Regions from separate parts of the Homo sapiens genome. Here region 1 is linked to region 2. A link means that fine-mapping ties the variant in region 2 to the expression of a gene that starts in the linked region. Tissue or cell type: whole blood. Region 2 holds a variant in brackets; the other region holds the start of a gene. Each region is shown on its reference strand, or each on the opposite one. Region 1 holds the start of NLRP3 (NLR family pyrin domain containing 3). Region 2 has its middle 43 kb from the start of DUSP22.

Region 1 (2,813 bases), not on the chromosome of region 2:
CAATAAGAGCAAAACTCCATCTCAAAAAATAAAATAGAATAAAATAAAATAAATAAAAACATACATCCTTTAATGTCTCCTTGCAAAATTCGCAATTGTTATCATTATAATTCACATTAATTTAGAGCTTTCCACAGGCTAGGCACTCACTGATGTTTTTCCCCATCTAACCTGCACAGAGCTCTATGAGGTGCACCTATTCCTAGCCCCATTTTATAGATGCATAAACTGAGTCTTAGGGGGACTAGGAAGCCTGCCGAGGGGTTTAGAACCAGGAAGGAACAGAGCCAGGATTTTGACCAGAGATATGAGACCATGTCTTCCATCACTTGTTTCAGTCAGACAAAGACAAAGACAACAAAATAGATGACTAAAAGACACACTTCCCCAGCATTTATCACAGGTGTATCACTGCAGCATTCACCAACATAGTCTTCCCAACTAGACTGTGAGTTCCACAAAAACTAGCAATCACCTGCTGTATCTTTAGATCTTCCATATCTCCTAGAGTCCGGATGGATGAACAAGTTGGCTTTGTTTGGAATTGTTCCCTCCTTGATCCCTTGATTATACTCTATTTGGCAAAGCACCTCAACCTAAAGCCATAAATAACACTCAAGGGAGGCAGAGAGCCTGGAAAACGGTGGAGCTCTCCAAATTGGAATTTCTGTGACTGCAGTTCAATGTCAAGATGCCTCAGACTCACTCATCTCTCCCGTCCCATCTCCATTCCTGCCTATCTACTCCTCGCCTCCTGAGCCCTGCAAACCCAGCCCTGTGCATCCTGAGGTGACTGCTCTCCAGACAGCCCTATTAGCTCCGCATACCCTCCCAGCTCCTGCCCATCCTGAGGTGACTGCTCTCCAGACAGCCCTATTAGCTCCGCATACCCTCCCAGCTCCTGCCCCATCAGTCCTTCCATCTGCATCAGGATTCTGCCTTTCTTCTGTGCTCCTTCCACCCTAACACCAGCACAAAAATCTGCTGCCCTTTGGTCTTTAAGGAGGTTTGTTTCCTTCTGTATATCCCATCCATCTTCTCCCCTGGGAGGGATACTGGGCAAATCTGCTGAAGTCGTGGGTGTAAACTATGGTTGCTGCCGCTGTCCTCCCCGCTTCCCCCCGCCACATACACACACACGAACTTGCACACGTAGAGCCCAAATAATGATAAAAGAACATTCCAGAAATGTTGTTGAAGCACAACCTTGGAGACGCCAGAAGAAATTCCTAGTGCATTAACCAGGACAAGTTCTGCCCTCTGAACACAATCTCCCCCACTGCTCTCCCGGTCCTGTCGCCCACACTGCCCCGCGGAGCTGGACTTACCCAGATGCCAGCCTCAGGAACAGCTAGAGAGGAAATGCAATGAATTTATAGCAGTCGCAGCCCCAGAAGGGGCAGGAAGGATGTGGTCTCCACTTACATCAGAGCAGAGGCAGAGAGACTAATGGTTAATCACATAGCTGGATTTTCCAAATGGGATCAACAGTGTTGTCAAAACCGTGTCTCGGTTCCATACTGGGGTTCACCTTGCTCTCCTCTGAGGCACCCCACAGAAGCAGGGTGGGAGGCCAGTATGAGATGGGGCTGGGGGTCAAATCGGCAGTGCTAAATGGATGTTGCCTCTGACACTGCCCGCTGCAACGGCTCCACTGAGAGTGAGGGAAGTGAAACTAAGGACATGCCATGCGAGTGAGTAAAGAATCCAGAGCATGACCTGACCCAGCCTTCAAACTCCAGAGTCCATGCCCTGTCCTCTCACAGCAAGATGGCTGGAAGGCAGTACAGGTTCTCTCCGACATGTTCTACTTTTAAAGCACAAATTTTACTCCCTGACTCATTGACTCACCTGTTCCACTAACACTCACGGAATGGCTGGTATGTGGCAGGCATGCACACAAAGCCTCAGCTTGAGTAGCTTGAGGAGAGACACACACAGACCTACTCTGCAGCTCATGAGACGGCCGCAGGACCACAGACCGGCAAAGGCACAAGTTCAACAGAGCTTGGTGGGTGAGAGGCACTCGCTCAGCCTCTGGGTGAGTGAAAAGGACGAGCACCCAGTTCAGTGGAGGGATGTCAGCAAATGACTGGGTCTGTCTGTGCCTCATACCTGTAAAAGGGTGACAATAATTGCCTGCTACTTCTTTAGATCTTCCAAATCTCCTAGACTCAGGATGGATGAACAAGTGGTTTTGCTTGGAATTGCCCCCTCCTTGATCCCTTCATTATACTGCATTTGACCAAGCACTACATCAACCCAAATAACGGTACCTATCCTAGAAGGCTGTCAGAAAACACTGAGTGAATGGCTAAACGTGAGGCCTTTAAAACAGAGCCTGGCACAGAGAAGCTAGAATAAGCAGTTGGTTCCGATGACTACCACCTTTCTACAGAACTGCAGAGAGAATGCTCTACAACATGAGAGAGGCATCTAGTCCTGCTTAGGGGCATGACAGCAGACCTGAGTCTCCATGAACCAGGTGAAAGGTGTCATTCGGGGCTGGAGCTGAGGCAGGAGCAGCAAAAACTTCAGGTGCTGAAGCTAGAGAGAAAGCAGACCAAATATGCTCCAAAAGAAAGGAGCTCAGCCTGGGTGCAGTGGCTCATGCCTGTAATCCCAGCACTTTGAGAGGCCAAGGCAGGCAGATCACAAGGTCAGGAGTTTGAGACCAGCCTGGCCAACATGACGAAACCCCATCTCTACTAAAAATATAAAAAAAAATAGCTGGGTGTGGTGGCGGGCACCTGTAATCCCAGCTACTCAGGAAGCTGAGGCAAGAGAATCACTTGAACCTGGGAGGTGGAGGC
Region 2 (2,813 bases):
AACCAGTCAAAGATATCATAAGAAAAGTACAAACCAATATCCCTTATACATATCAATACAAACATCCTCAACAAAACACAAACTGAATCCAATGAGATTCATCCAAAGAAGATAAGGATGCTTTAACTTTGAAAAATCAGTCAATGTAATGCACTGTATTAATAGCATGACAACAAAACCACATAGTCATCTGAAGAGATGGGAAAAAAAGCATTTTACAAAATTTAACAATCTTTCATAATACAAACACACAAAAACTAAGAATAGAAGGGAACTTCCTCCACCTGATCAAGGGAATCTACAAACAAACCACACCTAACATTACACATGTGGTAAAAGACAGAATGTTTTTGCCCTAAGGAAGTCCACTCTCACCACTTCTATTCAACATTGCAATGGAGGATCAAGCCAGGACAATTAGACAAGAAAGAAAAGTGAAAGACATCAGATGGGAAAGAAAGAAGTAAAACTATCTCTGTTTGTAGATGACATGATCTAATATTAAAAATTCTAAGCATGCCACAAAATAAACTATTAGGCATATAAAATTAGTTCATTAAGGTTGCTGGGTAGCAGATCAATATACAAAAGTCGGTTGGTTCTATACACTAGCAATGAACAATTTGAAAATAAAAGTAAGAAAATAGTTCCATTTATAATAGTATCAAAAAGAATAAAATATTTTAAGGATAGATTTTTCCAAAAAATTCAAGACTTCTACACTGAAAACTATAGTACAAAACATCATTGGAAGAATTACAGAGGATCTAAATTAATGGAAGACATCTCATGAACATAGATTGGAATACTCAATACTTATTGTTAAGACGGCAGTACTCCCCAAATTGATCTACAGATTCAATATAATCCCTATCATTATCCCAGCTGGCTTTTTTTTTTCGGCAGAAACTGACAAGCTTATTATACAATTCATACGGAAAGGCAAGGCACCAAGAATAACCAGAACAATCTTGAAAAATTAAAACAAAGTTGAAAGACTCACACGTCCTGATTTTAAAGCTTACTACAAAGTGACAGTAAGCAAGACAGTGTGGTACTAGCCGGACATGTAGATCAATGGAAGAGAATTTAGAGTCCAGAAATAAATCCTTATGTTTGTGGCCAATCAATTTTGACAAATAGAGCTACCCTAGAATCCAGCAATCCCACTGCTGGGTATATACCCAAAAGAAAGAAAATCACTATACTGAAGAGATGTCTGCATGCCCATGTTTATTGCAGCACTATTCACAATAGCCAAGATCTGGAAGCAACCTAAGTATCCATCAATAGATGAATGGATAAAGGATATGTGGTACATATACACAATAAAGTACTATTCAGCCATAGAAAAGAATTAGATGCTGTAATATGCATGGGACTGGAGGTCATCATGTTAAGTGAGACAAGCCAGGCACTGACTGACAAACTTTGCATGTTCTCACTCA[C/T]TTGTGAAAGCTAAAAATTAAAACAGTTGAATTCATGGAGATACAGAGGGGAAGAATGGTTCCCAGAAGGTAGTAAGGGCTGGGGTGGGGAGGACAGAAGGATGGTTAAAGTGTACACAAATATAGTTAGAATGGGTGGGTGCGGTGGCTCATGCCTGTAATCCCAGCACTTTTGGAGGCCGAGGCAGGTGGATCACTTGAGGTCAGGAGTTCGAAACCAGCCTGACCAATATGCTGAAACCCTGTCTCTTCTAAAAATACAAAAATAAGCCGGGCATGGTGGCGTGCATCTGTAGTCCCAGCTACTTGGGAGGCTGAGGCAAGAGAATCACTTGAACCCAGGAGGCGGAGGTTGCAGTGAGCTAAGATCATGCCACTGCACTCCAGCCTGGGTGACAGAGCGAGACTCCATCTACAAAAAAAAAAAAAAAGAAATATATATATTTCTTTTCTATTTATACATATGTATATATATGAATTAGAATATATGTATATATTCTAATATATATATTAGAATGAATAAGATCTAGTATTTGATATCACAACAGGGTGACTACAGTCAACAATAATTTATTGTACATTTTAAAATACCTAACAGATTATAATTGGATTGTTTGTAACACAAAGCTATGACAAATGCTTTAGGAGATGGATACCCCGTTTACCCTGATGTGATTGTTATACATTATATGCCTGTATCAAAATGTTTCATGTACTGCATAAATACATACACCTACTATGTACCCACAAAATTAAAAATTAAAATATTTTTAAAAATTAGGAAATTATTAGACTCATAGATATAATTTTAAATTAGAAATTAGAAAATCAAGCACGGGTGGTTTTATGAGTAGGTCCAGTATTACCCTCCTCTCTCTAGATCTTTTTAACAAATGGTGCTGGGAAAACTGAATATCAACATGCAAAAGAATAAAGTTGGACTCCTTTCTTACATACACAAAAATTAAATCCATATGAGTCATAAACCTTAATGTGAGAGCTAAAACTATACACTCTTAGAAGAAGTACTAAAGGTAAATTTTAATATCCTTGAGTTAGGTAAAGTCTTCCTAGATAAAACAACAAAGCAAAAGTGGCAAATGAAAAAAAAAGATTGATTGGACTTGATCAAAATTAAAAACTTTTGTTCTGCAAAAGACACCATCAGGTTAAAAAAAAAAACCCCACAAAATGGGAAAAATATTTGCAAATCAAATATATTCAGAATAGAAGGGTAACTTGCTTCTAGAATAAGTACAGAACATCTACAACTCAATAATAAAAAGAAAAATAAGCTATTTTTTAAAAAAATGCACAAAGGATCTGAACAGACATTTCTCTAAGAAAGATATATAAATGGCCAAC

What was found. PIP is the estimated chance that this variant, and not a neighbour inherited with it, causes the effect.
Region 1: NLRP3 starts here. The variant in region 2 is fine-mapped to the expression of NLRP3 in whole blood (TOPMed, PIP above 0.99).

Annotation. Positions count from the first base shown.
Region 1 is chr1:247,414,709-247,417,521 of GRCh38, reverse strand. It overlaps NLRP3 (NLR family pyrin domain containing 3), which reads right to left and starts at 1,349. Exons shown (of 10, transcript NM_001243133.2): 1 at 1,329-1,349.
Region 2 is chr6:248,350-251,162 of GRCh38, reverse strand. No RefSeq gene overlaps it. Among named protein-coding and RNA genes, the nearest start is that of DUSP22, 43 kb to the left of the region's middle. The variant C/T (reference allele first, on the strand shown) is at 1,449.